Regions from separate parts of the Homo sapiens genome. Here region 2 is linked to region 1. A link means that fine-mapping ties the variant in region 1 to the expression of a gene that starts in the linked region. Tissue or cell type: whole blood. Region 1 holds a variant in brackets; the other region holds the start of a gene. All regions are shown on one strand. Distances are between the middles of the regions.

What was found. PIP is the estimated chance that this variant, and not a neighbour inherited with it, causes the effect.
Region 2: HSP90AB1 starts here. The variant in region 1 is fine-mapped to the expression of HSP90AB1 in whole blood (INTERVAL, PIP 0.97).

The regions. Positions count from the first base shown.
Region 1 is chr6:44,278,564-44,286,664 of GRCh38, forward strand. It overlaps TMEM151B (transmembrane protein 151B), which reads left to right. Exons shown (of 3, transcript NM_001137560.2): 3 at 1-881. It overlaps DRC5 (dynein regulatory complex subunit 5), which reads right to left. Exons shown (of 5, transcript NM_182539.4): 3 at 7,401-7,969; 4 at 3,547-3,996; 5 at 171-1,827. The coding sequence ends at 1,618. Among named protein-coding and RNA genes, the nearest start is that of TMEM151B, 12 kb to the left of the region's middle. The variant G/A (reference allele first, on the strand shown) is at 3,102.
Region 2 is chr6:44,242,385-44,250,469 of GRCh38, forward strand. It overlaps HSP90AB1 (heat shock protein 90 alpha family class B member 1), which reads left to right and starts at 4,717. Exons shown (of 12, transcript NM_007355.4): 1 at 4,717-4,811; 2 at 6,246-6,392; 3 at 6,993-7,199; 4 at 7,291-7,450; 5 at 7,637-7,770; 6 at 7,907-8,085. The coding sequence starts at 6,246. RefSeq lists enhancers at 3,019-3,773, 4,528-5,282, 5,767-5,816 and a silencer at 3,977-4,216.

The sequences.
Region 1 (8,101 bases):
AGGAACGTGGCTCCTCCTCCCTCAGGCCTGTTCCTGAGACAGAGCCTGGTCTCACAAGAGGGGAAGGGGGACCTCTATTATTATTTTTGCCTGTATTGACCATTTCTGCCTAGGTCGTCTCAGACAGCCTCATCTCCCACACATGCACAGACTTAGAGAGAAACCAATTCTTTGGTCTATTTTCTTGGTAGCTTTACTGATTGCCAGGGAAAATGAAAACCAGAAAATTAATTAATCTCTAAAATTAAACTTTACACTGAATGTTCTTGTTTCTCTAATTAGAACTTCTGCTAGCAGCTGTGGCTATACACACACACACACACACACACACCCTCACACCTACACGTTTGCACTCCGGAACTGTCAGAGGGTGTCAGGCACAGACAGACTCTAGGTTGCCTAGACAGGCACACACATGCAGTCACTCCCAAGCCCCCTTTGGTGCTCTGCTCAGCGCCTGCTTAGCGGAAGGAGTCCCTGGAGAGCAGGCACTCCTGGACTGGGGTTGTAGCCCATGACCTGCCCTTTGGGGACACAGTTCTGGAGGCTCTGGGCCAATGAATCAGCCCAAGGAGGATGGGCAATGGCGCTCAGCCTGAATCAGTCAGCTAGGTCTCTTGTGGCCCTGGGGGCTGATGTGATTCCTGTAGGTGTGGCCCCAGGGTGGACAGCTACAGAGTGATGGGGGACTCATGTAGGGCACCTGGAAGGCTCCATGTGTCCTGGGGACAAGGGCTTGTGGGGTGGGCTGGGCCTGGCTGGGGAGAAGACAGGTCTCTGTCAATTGGGTGCATCACACTGTGGCCTTTTTGTCGTGGATTTAAGCGCAAAGATTGTACAAATCAAACTGGTGGATAATAAAGTCGTGGATGACTCACTGACTTCCTGTCCCAGTGTGGCACTTCTTTCCCTCCCTCCCAGGGAAGCTCTCTGGGGTGGGTGGCAGGGATTGTGTCATCCTTCCCTGGAAGTTGTCATCTACAGTTGCCTCCCCAGAGGAGTCCACTGGGTCTGAGCCCCTGGTGTCAGCTCATTGTCCCCTTCCCAGGTTGGGAGTTGGGGAACTAGGGGATGGCGTGGCCTGTAGAACTGGATCACTTAAAGCAGAGTCAAGCAACAGGGAAATGCATCTACAGGGATGAGGGTGGCAGAGAGAGCCAGGCATAGCCCTGCTGTAGCCAGAGGGTGTGTGTGTGTGTGTGTGTGTGTGTGTGTGTGTGTGTGTGTGTGTGTTTGAAGATCAAGGATCTGTTTGGTAGAGAAGAAAATGGTGGGGAGTCAGGGAGGCAGGCAGCCCCAACGGGAGAATCTGGCAGGCACAGTCCCTCAGACACCTCTCTGACTTCCCTGTTCCTGAAAGAAGTTGGTCATTTGTGGGTGTCCAGTAATATCCTTTCCCTGGGCACAAAGGCTGGGTCCCTACTGCATACCCTTTCTTCCCCCATGCCAGGCTCCCTTCCCTGCCTCATGTCTCCATCCATACAACCCTTGATCACTCCAAGGTTATTCACAGTCCCCCTCCCCGCTCCCTCTGAACCAGTGTGATACTCTGCAGCAGGCATGGCAGGGGTATGAAATGAGGGATGGGGCTGGGGCCATGATCCAAGTCAGGTCATTTTATCCCACAGAGTTCTCAGGGCCATTGGCAGTTATGGTTGACATGAAGTGGCTGGGATTCAGGGCCCGCTGGCGGGCTGCTTCTCGGTTTGCGTAGAGGGCCTGGCCAATGAGGTACTCGCTTTCCTGGGCCACATCTGACAGGCGCAAGTCAAATTCCAGGAGGGTCTTGTTGTCTGACATGCCTTCCAGGAGCTGCTTCCCACCGTCCTGGGAGAAGGGTGCAAAGGAAGGGGTCATTTACATCACTACCCAGGATCTGACACACATACTACACATTTTCAGGTAGATGTGACTAAAACAAAAGTTTCACAAAACAATACTTAACCTATTTGTGACGCATGATGACATATTCTGTTCTTTTCCATTTGAAAAATGGTAGCCAATACCCACTAAATTGACATCTCAACCCTACTAGTTTGAAAAACATGAATCTCTGGCAATGAAGATAATTCCATTCCTTTGGTTCAGCCATGGGCATGTGGGACAAATCTAATGAGATGTGAGGGGGAAGCTGAGAGAGGGTGGCTTCTGGGAAGCTTCTCCTCATTCCAAAAAGAGAAGAAAAGGGAGCAGGTGTTCTCCCGGTTTCTGCCTCTGGGCATGTCCCTGTATGAGATGTCAGAACTGTGGCAGCCATCTTGGGACTGACAGAAGCACTAGCGAGGCATTGGCCATGAGACTGGGGTGGGCAGAGCAGAGGGTAGCACTGAACCCAGGGGTTTACCGACCCTACAACCCTCTAATTCTGGTTGTGGGAGACACTGAATATTCCTCCTGCTTAAGCCATTTCTGATTAAGCTTTTTATTACTTGCAGTCAACAGCACCCCCTCTAGAAACTGTGTGTGTGTGTGTGTGCGCGCATGCACGTGTGTGTGCGTGTATGTGCCTGTGTAGGTGAGCAAGGCTGTTCTCATGGGGAGGTTTAGTAGAGGGTTCAGTGACCTAATGGAGGGCCCTGCTCAATGGTCATCACAGCTCCAACCCCTGCTGGGCTGGGTGGGCTAGCCCCAATGTGAAAGAATTTCACGTTGGGAGGCAGAATGCTACCATTCTGTGGTTGTGACCCAGTAGTGTGTTGCAAAGTCAATTTAATGGGTCACAGAAGCATTTTAAAAAATACAATAGAATGGAATGTAAAGGAAAATATCAGCATATATCACGTCATAAATTTCAATATTATGTTTATGTCAGTGTTCATGTAAATTGCATTTTTTTTTTGAGACGGAGTCTCGCACTGTCACCCAGGCTGGAGTGCAGGGGCACGATCTCAGCTCACTGCAATCTCCGCCTCCTGGGTTCAAGCAATTCTCCTGCCTCAGGCTCCCAAGTAGCTGGGGTTACAGGTGCATGCCACCACATTGGGCTGATTTTTGTATTTTTAGTAGATATGGGGTTTCACCATGTTGGCCAGACTGGTCTCGAACTCCTGGCCTCAGGTGATCTACCCACCTCAGCCTCCCAAAGTGCTGGGATTACAGGC[G/A]TGAGCCACTGTGCCTGGTCGTAAATTGCATTTCTTACTCTCAGACTTGGTTAAGAAAGTTTTAGAGACACAGTCTATTAGAAAGGACTCAGGCTTTCAATCAATCTTGGGTTTGAATCGTAGCCTTGCCACTTGCTACTGACTTGATGCCCTTGGGCAACTCACTATCCTCTCTGAAACTTAGTTTTCCATCTAGAAAGTAGGGTTAAATATACTTAGTTATATACTTAAATATATTTAGGGTTAAATATGCTTAGGGTTAATATACAGTTACTTAGGTAACTGTAAGGATTAAAGGAAAAATAATCATTGGGATACACAGTATGTGTGCATACTTGATGCAGTATGTAGTATGTAAACTCTGTGATCTTCACAATTATCCCACAAGTACCCCTGGCAGTTGGATTCCACACCCACCCTCACAAGCCCAGAATAGGTGGCTCACCAGCCCGATGTGGTTGCAGGACAGGTTGATGCTGGTGAGTGTGGTGTTGATGGCGAGCACCTGTGACAGGAGTGTGGCGGTGGGCTCAGACAGCTCATTGCCACCGAGGTGCAGCGTGGTGAGGCACTTGTTGGTCTGCAAGGCATGGGCAAGAGCCTGGCCACCCTCATCCTCGATGCAGTTGAGACGTAGGTTGAGGGAAATGAGGTTGGTGTTGTGTGCCAGAGCGTGAGCCAGGGACTGGGCACCGGGTGCACGCACCTGGTTGTTAGCCAGGTTGAGCACACGCAGGCGGCTGTGGCTCAGCAGCTTGGCAGCACCTCGTGCACCACGGTCTCCAATGAGGTTTTGTGACAAGTCCAGCTCCTCGAGGACTGGGTGGTCCAGAAGGCTTCGAATTATGATGCGTGCCTTGTCATCATCCACCTTGCTTCGGGTCAGCTTGAAGATCTGTGGGCAGGCAGAGGGTCTACAGCAACTGCCAGCCAGGGATAATCAGCCTGCCCACCTAGATCTTTGGCAAACTTGGCTCACCTAGTGTTGGCCACCTGGCTGGGTCTTGGAGGGGGCCAGGCCTACCAGCATGGCAGAGTAGTGTAGAATTGGTGGCAGGTAGCAGGGAGGAAAGATCACTGTTTATTGAGCAATTACTACATGCTGGGTATGCTGCTTGGGTCTTCCTTTTTTATCTTTTTTTTTTTTTTTTTTTTTGAGACGGAGTCTCGCTCTGTCACCCAGGCTGGAGTGCAGTGGCGTGATCTTGGCTCACTGCAAGGTCCACCTTCCGGATTCACACCATTCTCCTGCCTCAGCCTCCTGAGTAGCTGAGACTACAAGTGCCCGCCACCACGCCCTGCTAATTTTTTGTATTTTTAGTAGAGACAGGGTTTTACCGTGTTAGCCAGGATGGTCTTGATCTCCTGACCTCGTGATCCACCCGCCTCAGCCTCCCAAAGTGCTGGGAATACAGGCGTGAGCCACCGCGCCCGGCCGCTTGGGTCTTTCACAACCATTATCTCTAACCTTCAGCATCTCGATGAAGAAGAGAAAGTTCTCTCCATTTTACAGACAGAAAATGGAGGCTTACATTATTTCCCCAGAGTAATGCAGTGATTGAAGCAGTTGAGACAGGTTTGGAATCCAAGCCTGCCTGAGGCCTCAGCCCCTCACTGCATCCTCCTCTCCCAGCCAAGATCCACCAGGGCAAGGAGAGGACCTCTTTGAAGGAGGTTGCCAGGGCAAGAACCAGGGAGACAGTGGGGAGGTGGAGAAGCAGGAAAAGGATGAGATAAAGGAATGAAGGAAAGGGGATGGGGCTGGCAGTATGAATATTGTCCATGGGAACCTCTCCCCCTCACCTTCCCGCTGGCTTGTCCCACTCCTCTCTCTCCCTTGAGACCTCTGAGTGTCTGGCCTCTCTCTCTCTACCCTTCGGTTCACTCCTTTTTATACCCCTCTTACCCAGCTGAGTCCTTTGTGTCTCTTCTCTTTTCATTGCGTCTCTCTGGCAAAGCCCTAACCCTGGATCAGCCCCACTCTCTATTTTCTGCATGCCTGTGCGCAAGCAACTGACAAAATAGAAAACATCAGCTGATGGGACTGGTTGCTATCACCGGAAACACCAATAGGCTTGTAACGCTGCATGCCAATCTAACTATATTTCTCTGGCCAAAATACCCTCTTATAATCTACAACAACTATTTCAGCTTTTTGCAGCCTCCTCAGAATTCAGGGGCCTCCTTGCTGAGCCCCCTCTTTCAGCAGGTGAACTCTCCTCTTGCCTTCTCAGTCATTGAATGGGAACCTGTCATTTTCCTGATACCAAGCACTGACTTATTGGTCTATGAACCCGTGCCTCTCTTCTACATTCATCCCCTTTCTTGCAACTGGATGGAGCCTTACACTGGTTTTAAACATATGTGAGTTATTCTGAAGGAACCCAAAGCTCTCATCGGTTATGGCTGTACCTTTTCCCCTTCGCAGCCAAGTTCTTGAAAAAGCTGATCACAGCCACCCATTCCTCACTTCCCACTCTCCCCAGAAACCACTGCTATCTGGCCTCTGCTCCTGCCACTCCACTGAAATAGCTCCCCCTCAGTGACCTCCATGTTCACTAAATCCAGTCCTCAGCTCTATTCCACCCCGTTGCTCACTCCCTCTACTTGAAACATACCCCTCCCTTGCTCTGTGACACAATGCCATGTTTCCCCATTTCCTCCTCCCTCTGGCTTCCTGGCAAGCTCTTCTTCTTCCACTGAGACCACATGCCAGGCCTCTTGTTGTCTTGCTTTTGGCTCTCCCCTGTGAGACTCCATCCAAACCCAGGGCTGCAACTGCCACCTTCATGAAGATGGCACACATTCCCACATTCAATTCAGACCTCTCATCTGAGCTTCGGACCCTCTACCCAACTAACGAAATGACCCCTTCTTTGAGATGCCTCAAACTGAAACTTACACTCTTCCCCCTCAAAACTGATCCTCTTCCCACATTCCCTGTCTCTGCACATGGTCCCTCCAGCCATCCAGCCTCACAAGCCAGAGGTCTTGCACCTCACCTCCTTCTCCTTCCTTCTCCTTCAGATCCTCCCTGTGCCAGTGTGGCCAGGTGCATGCCAGACACATGTCTGCCTAAATATGTGTTGACTCTCTCCACTCCTTTGAGTCTCCACAGACACTACCCTCGCTGAAATGACCCTCACCCTCACCTGGATTTGGCAGTGATCTCCTAGGTAATCTGCATGTCCACTGCTGCCCTGCCCAGGCCATCCTCCCTCACAGACGGAGTGACATTTTCACATGTGAAATCCAGTAATGGTACCTACTTTTTTGCCTAAAACCCTTGGATGGTGTCCCAGAGCTCCTAAGGATAAAGATAGCCTCCTGGACAAAGCCTCCTTCACCCAGCAAGGCTGACCACCTCACACTCTGCGCCAGCCACACAGTCTTCTCTTTCTCTTTGAGCTGGCCATGTTCACTCTGCCCATAGAGCCTGTATGCACTGCTCCCTCTGTCTGGAACGCTCCTCCCTCTGAGACTGTAACTCGTCCTCCTCCTTCTAATCTCTATGTAAGTGACATTTGTTCAGGGAAGCCTTCCCTTGCAAGGTCAAATGCTCCTTTACAATCTCTCATAAGAGTATCTCTTCTTTATAGCATTCATCCCAATTCAGGGGTACCAGAAAAAAGTACAGGATGCCCAGTTAAAAATAAATTTCAGATAAATAAGAACGCCCCATGGAATATTCGGGACATACTTATAAAAATTCTTTGCTGTTTATCTGAAATTCAAAATTTTTGGAGACAGGGTCTCATTTTGTAACCCAGGCTGGAGTGCAGTGGTGTGATTGCAGCTCACTGCAGGCTTGAACTCCGAGGCTCAAGGGATTCTCCTACCTCAGCCTCCTCAGTCTCTGGAAGACTACAAGCGTGCCTGGACCTGAAATTCACATTTAACTGGATGTCCTGTATTTCTATTTGCTACATCTGGCAACCCTATTCTAGTATCAATTTTATGTTTATATGATTGCTGATTAGTGCCTTTATCCCATCAGACTGTTAGCTACAGAGGGCACAAATGATAATCTTGCTCATCCTTGAATCTTCAGCACCTAGGACAGGGCCTGGAGCGCAGCTGTTTGTTCAATGAAACCAACTGGTGAACTGGGAGAGCAGCGCCTTGTTCATCTCTACACCCCCAGAACCGTGTATCTTGGTGCAGGGTGCATTAAAAAACACTTGGCCAATGAAAGAGAAGGAAATAGGAAGAAGGCAATAATAGAGGAGGAAGAGGAGGGGAGAGGGAATCTGAGAGATGCTGAGAAGGGGTGGGGGGAAGGCTGGGAGCAGACAGTACCTTGAGGGTGTGGCATGCCTTGATGGCGGCTGCCAAGGAGAGGCAGTCACGGTAGGTGAAGAGGAAGAGATTCCACTCGAAATTCATGCCGCAGTCCTTGACATCGTACACCAGGTCCAGCTCCTCCAGGTGGCTCAGGCCAGCTACCAGATCGCCCAGTTGGTAGTGGTCAACGGTGGGCTCCTCCATCTCTCCCTCGCTGCCTGAGTCGGACTGGTCGCCCGGCCGGAGCTGGGCCGGGAGCTGCACCGGCGGAAGGAACTGATCGACGTGGACCCTGCGCACGTAATTCCGGCAGAGCGGCAGCAGGTCGAGGATCACCGCAGGGTCTGTGGTGCCTGGGATAAAGTGCTTTAGCAGGTTCTCCAGGTGCCGCTCGAAGAACATGCGTTTCCAGCTGCCGCCATGGTGGGCCACGTGGCACACGGGCCAGCGATGCATGCAGCAGCGGAGCCAGTAGTTCTCACTGTCTATCAGGTTGGCGGTCACAGCCAGTGGTAGGTCAGGGGACAGGTGGTTCAGGACCTTCTGCTGGTGTTCCGGGAGCATCTGCTTCAGGATAGGGTTTTCTTTGGGAACAGAGGAAGGAGCGCAGGGGGTCACAGTGTTGGGGGACACCTCAACATGATGCCTCAGGCTGGGCCTGCCTGGGAGCACCAGGCAAAGGAGAGACCCTTCCCTGCTTAGGGGATAGACAGCCT
Region 2 (8,085 bases), 36 kb before region 1:
CTGGGAAACCGAAAATGAACAAAAATTTCCATTTTCTATGGCATCAAAAAAATAACAATACTAACAATACAGTGAGCAAAAATTATGCAAGAGACTTCCCTTGTGTTCTAGTGGAATGTGAAAATGGAGGCAAAGAGATGGAGTCCATGCTGGCTGTGCAGACCTGCCCAATTGTCCAATGCATCTGAATGTCAGGCTCACTAGTATTGGAGGGTGTCAGTTCAGGGTATTCCCTCAGGAATTCAGAGAGCTAAGGCTCGTGGAACTGGGAAGGCCCAGAAAGTAACGGGACACACCTGGCAGGCACTGAGCTTAAGAGGCTGCTTGTTCTAGGGGTTCAGGGTCCACAGCTACTCTCCATGCTCATATCTCTGATGTCCTGTTACCCTCAGTTGTTTTATTCGTTCACTGAGCTTTATTTAACTCCCCTCCGTGGCCTCTGTGAACCCTAGAGACTCTGTCCAGGCTGAGTCTCTGTGCTCCCTGCAAGACTTTGCTGAGCTTTATGTAGCTTAGGGGTCTGCAAACGTTTTCTGTAAAAGGCAAGAGAGTAAATGTCTTAGGGTTTGCAAGCGTTATGGTCTCTGTCACACCTATCGATTTTGACTTTATGTTACAGAAGCAGTCAAAGACAAGGGCTACGTTTCAACAAAACTTCATTAAAATTGGCCAGGCGCAGTGGCTCACGACTGTAATCTCAGCACTTTGGGAGTCTGAGGCGGGCAGATCACCTGAAGTCAGGAGTTCGAAACCAGCCTGGCCGACATGGTGAAACCCGGTCTCTACCAAAAATACAAAAATTAGCCGGGCGTGGTGGCGGGCGCCTGTAATCCCAGCTACCTGGGATGCTCAGGCAGGAAAATCGCTTGAACCCGGGAAGTGGAGGTCGCAGTATGCTGAGATTCTGCCATTGCACCCCAGCCTGGGAGACGAGTGAGACTCCGTCTAAAAAAAAAAAAAAAAAACTTCATGAAAACAGAAATTCAAATTTCATATAATTTTCCCATGTCAAAATAATATCTTTCTTTTGATTTTTTTTTCAACCATTATGAAGTGTAAAAACCCTTCTTAGCCCACAGGCCATTCAAAAAACAAGCAGCAGGCCCACCAGCTGCAGACCTTGGGTTGTTAATCCCTGCTTTAGCTGGCCACCCTCCGACAGCAGAAGGTTGGGCTGGGCCTAGGAGGTTTCATGGAGGAATAAAAGGGATCTGGGGAACATCAGTGGTTCCAAGGCTGGGAATAAGGCTTCGGACGGTGTAGTTTTTTTTTGTTTTGTTTTTGTTTTCTGAGACGGAATCTTGCTCTTATTGCCCAGGCTGGAGTGCAATAGCGCGATCATGGCTCACCGCAACCTCCACCTCCTGGGTTCAAGCGATTCTCCTGCCTCAGCCTCCTGAGTAGCTGGAATTACAGGCATGTGCCACCACACCCAGCTAATTTTGTATTTTTAGTAGAGACGGGGTTTCTCCATGTTGGTCAGGCTGGTCTCAAAACTCCTGACCTCAGGTGATCCGCCCGCCTTGGCCTCCCAAAGGTCTGGGATTACAGGCGTGAGCCACCCGTGCCCAGTCTGGAAGACATAGTTTTAAGCCTGTCTTTTATAACCTTCACTTCTCTCACTCTTAAGATCAGGACTTCTTACCAGTGGCATTTGCAGCCCTCTGCGACCTAACCCCCATCTGCAGGGCTACTTTCAACTCCTTGTGCTTCCCTTTGGGGTTCCTGAGCTATGGTTCCTCTAATGGGGCTCTGTTCCTTTCCATGCTTTCCATGTCATGGCCTGGCTAGGCATGGTCCTAAGACTGCTCCCTTTCCCAAGCTGAGCTGAGGGCCTCTGCGGCTTCTCCCATCCTCCTATGGTTCACACTTGGCTGCTGCAGCCTCCAGTGGGTTAAGGGCTCCCAGTCCTGTGTATGCATCTCTGCATCCCCAGGATCTCCACACAGTGGAGGCTTAGTGAGTGTCAATGAGTGGAAAACGATGGAGCTTGTGGACACAGGTAGGCGGTCTCCTGAAAGGCTTCCTGGAAGAGAAAGTGGAATTTCTTTTTTTTTTTTCTTTTTTGAGACAGAGTCTCACTGTGTCGCTCAGGCTGGAGTGCAGTGGCGTGATCTCGGCTCACGGCAACCTCTGCCGCCCGGGTTCAAGTGATTCTCCTGCTTCAGCCTCCCAAGTAGCGGGGACTATAGGCGCGCTACCACGCCCGGCTAATTTTTGTATTTTTAGTAGAGACAAGGTTTCACCAGAGTGGCCAGGCTGGTCTTGAACTCCTGACCTGGTGATCCGCTGGACTCGGCCTCCCAAAGTGCTGGAATTACAGGCATGAGCCACCGCGCCCAGCCCCCTTTTTTTTTTTTTTTTTTTTTTGAGACGGAGTTTCTCTTTTGTTGCCCAGGCTGGAGTGCAATGGCATGGTCTCAGCTCACTGCAGCCTCTGCCTCCAGAGTTCAAGCAATCTTCCTGCCTCAGCCTCCCAAGTAGCTGGGATTACAGGCATGTGCCACCACGCCCAGCTAATTTTTAGTAGAGACGAGGTTTTTCACCATGTTGGCCAGGCTGGTTGTGAACTACTGACCTCGGGTGATCCACCCACCTCGGCCTTCCAAAGTGCTGGGATTACAGGTATGAGCCACTGTGCCCAGCAGAGAAAGTGGAATTTCTATGCTGGTGTAACATTTGAGATTTTCCCATTTAGAAAGTCTTCAGGAAGCCGTCGAGTCTTGACACAGAAAGGATCCAGCTCAGGGGAAGCCCATCCACAGGAGTGATTCCTGCTTTGGATTTAGGTCCTAGGGGTGAGATCACATCCCTGCTCCATTTCTGGAGCAGAAAGGGAGCTAGTGCAGCAAGGACTCTGAGTAGACGGGCCTTGGGAGTCACTGAAGCCACTTCCCTGTTGACAGAATGTGCACACTGACTTTCATCCGCTCACAGGAGAGTGAGAGTTTGTGAATGCTCTCTGTGAACTGGGGAGCAGATTTTTAATGAGCTCTGCTTAGAAGGAGAGGACACGTTAAGGGATCACGCTCCCACTGGTTTGCGGTTTTGGTCAGGAATAGAGCACCCAACGCCCCTTCTTATAGACTTCTCCCAGCCATAGGCTTTTTGCAGACCATAATGAAAGGGAGAAAGGATATCCAATCGGGATGGTGATGGCAGGCATGGCGAAGTGGACAGGGACAAAGAAGAGGAAAGCAAGGGACACCCTTTGTTCTTTGGTATTCAACACATGAACAAAACTTGTTAACGAATCGTAGACTGGGTAACAACAGGGCTGGTGAGGGAGGACGATGTGGGTGGCTGTGGGGAAACTCTTCCCAAGCATCCCAGGGGTGGGCCAGGAAGGGGAGCAGATGGACATCTACAGGGCACAGAGCAGGGAGTGGCTATTCTCTCCTGGAGGGGTTGTGGGTCCAGCAGGCTTTCGGATGAGGCCTTGGAAAGGCAAGGACAGCTTGCCAACTGGAGGGCAGGCAAAACGGCTGAGCCAGGCCAGACACGGCAGCTCACTGGCCAGGGGCATGGCCTAGGGGCTCTGGTGCCAAGGCTGAAGGGGAACAACTTGGCCAGCCGCTCTGTGGCCGGCATCGTCACGCGGCCTCCAAGAGCTCCGGCTGCCCTGCACTGGTTCCCAGAGACTCCCTCCTTCCCAGGTCCAAATGGCTGCAGGAGCGAAGTGGGCGGAAAAAAAGCGAACCAGCTTGAGAAAGGGCTTGACGTGCCTGCGTAGGGAGGGCGCATGTCCCCGTGCTCCGTGTACGTGGCGGCCGCAGGGGCTAGAGGGGGGTCCCCCCCGCAGGTACTCCACTCTCAGTCTGCAAAAGTGTACGCCCGCAGAGCCGCCCCAGGTGCCTGGGTGTTGTGTGATTGACGCGGGGAAGGAGGGGTCAGCCGATCCCTCCCCAACCCTCCATCCCATCCCTGAGGATTGGGCTGGTACCCGCGTCTCTCGGACAGGTCAGAGCGGGTCGCCGGGTGGGGTCGCTGCAAAAACCCTGCCCCGGCCGCAGCCGGAGAGGCGGAGCCTCGCGGGGAGGGGGCGGGACCGCCGAGACAGGCCTGGAAACTGCTGGAAATGCCGCAGTGCCGCCGCCGCGCCTTCCGCCGCATGTCGGCAAAGAGTCCCCGCCAGCCCCGGCCGGCGCCCTCCCCCTACGCTGAGCTGCCCCTCAGCGCGAACCCTCCGCCCTTCCTCTACTCCTGCGAGAGTCGGGATCTGGGGCTACCCAAGGTTGGGTCCCGAATGCCAGTCCCTCTGTCGGGACGCGAGATGTGTAGGGCAGATGCTAGGAAGAAGATTGGGTCTGGGAGCGGTGGTCCGCGTGGTTAGCTGCCTCCGCTCTTTTTCGGTGTCCCCCCCAGTCCCGCCCTTGGGTGTGGGGACGCCTGCCCCACAAGTGTTTAGGGAGGTCAGTGGGTTCCTCGCCCGTAGAGACACCGTTTATGCCAAATGAGCACTCCTCATCCCCGCTCTTGATGGAGTCATGTCCTAGACGTGAAACTATGGGGCTGTGATCACAAGCAAATGTGTGGGCGGATCCGTTGCTTGGGTTCTTCCCCGCCCCCTCTTTTTTTCGGACCATGACGTCAAGGTGGGCTGGTGGCGGCAGGTGCGGGGTTGACAATCATACTCCTTTAAGGCGGAGGGATCTACAGGAGGGCGGCTGTACTGTGCTTCGCCTTATATAGGGCGACTTGGGGCACGCAGTAGCTCTCTCGAGTCACTCCGGCGCAGTGTTGGGACTGTCTGGGTATCGGAAAGCAAGCCTACGTTGCTCACTATTACGTATAATCCTTTTCTTTTCAAGGTAAGGCTGAGATCTCCGCTAGGCTTCTTTCCCTTTAGTGCTGTATTCGTGTTGTTTTTGTTTTTTTCTGTCCTTTAGGGAGCCTTAGTCTAGATGTCGGGGTGGCTTGTGGATAACGCTCTGGATTTTTATAGGGTGAGGGTAGTGGTGGGTGAGGTTTTTTGAGTCCTCCTCGGTTTTCTCTAGTGTGTTTGGGGGGTGGGGCTTTCTCTCGGCGCCTGCTGGCCGTAGCGAGGTGGGCTGTGGGGTTGGGGCAGTGGGCGGCTGGCAGCTGCACGTGGTGGCCGCGCGGCCCGGGACGCTGCCATTTTTGCCCCTCCACTTCCGGACGCGGCTACGGGGCGTCGGAGGGGGACCGCAGGGTGGCGGGGGTGCCCGCTCGGGTGACTCAGCACGGCCTTGTGGGACTGGCTTTGTCACCTCTCTTATCGGACGCGTTGTTAAAGCCTTCTTGGGTGCTTTGTTTCTGTGAGGGAGGGTTGACGGTGTGGGAAGAGAGCTTTCGGTCTCCAGCACCCGATACTCCCTCCTTCCAGATCTTTCTTGCAGTCCCGGTGGAGGAGGGGCGGGGAGGGGAGCAGGTTCTGGAAGATTCATGGGCTCCTTCCTCCGCCCTTCCTCGAGAGCTGAGATTGTTCTGGAAGCTTCTGGATTCTGGCGCCCCGCCCCAGTGCCCGGATGCTGGGGCGAGGGAGGGTGCACTGCGGCGCCCCCTCCTCGCGTGGTCCTGGCCGACGCATGTCCGGCAGTGACGAGTGTCGGCCTGGTGGCTACGGCCACCATCTTTCTTGGGTTTGGTCCTGTTCTGTAATTTTGTGCTGTGAAAGGGTCGTGGTGGAGCTTTTGGCTTAAGAATTCTTTGTCCGGATTTAATTGCTCCTCCGGTGGGTATCGTATGGATCCCAGGTTATTCCTCCCTGCCCTATGGGGCAGGAGTGTCCCGCCCTTGGACTGGTCTTAGGAACTGACACCTCAGGGGGAGCAGTTTAAAGTTAGTGCCATTTTTATCTTAAACTAGTCACTTTGATCTCCCCCAAATAAAGAACTGTAGGTAGTGATTTTCACATTTAAATTTGTGTAAGGATTACTTGGGATCTCTAGATACCTGGGTTGGACCAACATTATGATTTTTCTGCCATACTACCAGATGATGCTGAGGCTGCTGGTCACCATTCTTTAAGTAGGTGGGTTCTGTGACATTTGGTTGAAGAATATTTAGCTTATTTTCTTTTTCCTTCTGAATTTTCAGGCCTCCCACTTAGTGTGTAGTCTGAGATCTTTAAGAGAATGCATTTTTAGTCTTGGGAAGGGATAGTACTCCGGTTAAACCAGTCTGAACTCACTGTCTAAGGTCCTAACAAATGATATGACCTTTAGGATTTTTAAACATGGGGCCTTAGTGTTCTTTTGTAATTAATGAGATTTTTATTTTAGATGCCTGAGGAAGTGCACCATGGAGAGGAGGAGGTGGAGACTTTTGCCTTTCAGGCAGAAATTGCCCAACTCATGTCCCTCATCATCAATACCTTCTATTCCAACAAGGAGATTTTCCTTCGGGAGTTGATCTCTAATGCTTCTGATGTAGGTGCTCTGGTTTCCACATTTGGCATGGTTTTTTTTTTTGATACTCTAGAAGGAGGGGAAAGGAGTGGTTTGGCCTTTGTTGGGGACTACTATTGAAGGGGGTAAACTTGCAGCTATTCCAAAAAGATGGGTTTTACTCTGGCCATCTTGAACTTGGAAGGGACTATGTCCAGAATAAGTGGGCTCATGGAACTAACTGGTTCTAAAGCCTCAAGATAGGGGGCAATCAGATTTGAGGCTGAGAGAGGTAAACCAAGATTTTCTTTGAAGATACGGGCTTTAAGAAAGCAAAAGTGGCTGAGCGTGTTGGCTCACACCTGTAATGCCAAGGCAGGAGGATCACTTGAGCCTAGGATTTCGAGGGCAGCCTGGGCAACCGCGAGACCTTGTCTCTGCAAAAAATTAAATATTAGTTGGGCACGGTGGCATGTGCCTGTAGTCCCAGCTACTTGGGAAGCTGGGGTTGGGAGGATGGCTCGAACCTGGGAGGTCAAGGCTGCAGTGAGCTGTCATCCTTGCCACTGCACTGTAGCTTGGGCAACAGAGCAAGAGTCTGTCTTGGAAAGAGCAAAAGTAAGTTGCTGTTTGTATTTCCAGGCCTTGGACAAGATTCGCTATGAGAGCCTGACAGACCCTTCGAAGTTGGACAGTGGTAAAGAGCTGAAAATTGACATCATCCCCAACCCTCAGGAACGTACCCTGACTTTGGTAGACACAGGCATTGGCATGACCAAAGCTGATCTCATAAATAATTTGGGAACCATTGCCAAGTCTGGTACTAAAGCATTCATGGAGGCTCTTCAGGTATTGCAGTTCTGTAGGCATTCATACTTATCTGTGTTCTTTGGTTTTTTGCTTCTTTAAAACTTGTGATTGACTTTAAACTTGTTGGCAGGCTGGTGCAGACATCTCCATGATTGGGCAGTTTGGTGTTGGCTTTTATTCTGCCTACTTGGTGGCAGAGAAAGTGGTTGTGATCACAAAGCACAACGATGATGAACAGTATGCTTGGGAGTCTTCTGCTGGAGGTTCCTTCACTGTGCGTGCTGACCATGGTAAGTTAGCTTTTCTGTTACAAGGTAGTTGGGTTAGGATTTTCTGGGCTCACACCAGTAGCAGAAATTTTGGGCATCCTGTCTGTAAAGCAGTTCTTCACAGCAGTTCTGCTGATACTTACTAATTGCTGGTCTCAACTGCATATACTTTTTACCCTGTTACACGCTTGTAATTGACTCTTCTAGGTGAGCCCATTGGCAGGGGTACCAAAGTGATCCTCCATCTTAAAGAAGATCAGACAGAGTACCTAGAAGAGAGGCGGGTCAAAGAAGTAGTGAAGAAGCATTCTCAGTTCATAGGCTATCCCATCACCCTTTATGTGAGTATGGACTTTTAAATCTTTTACACTTAACGTGCAGGATGTTTCCTGTTCTGGAGAATCTCATTGTCCCTGGCTTTTGCTTTCCCTGGTAGTGTTTTGTACTCCAAGGCTAACTTCTGTTTTTGTTACTTAGTTGGAGAAGGAACGAGAGAAGGAAATTAGTGATGATGAGGCAGAGGAAGAGAAAGGTGAGAAAGAAGAGGAAGATAAAGATGATGAAGAAAAACCCAAGATCGAAGATGTGGGTTCAGATGAGGAGGATGACAGCGGTAAGGATAAGAAGAAGAAAACTAAGAAGATCAAAGAGAAATA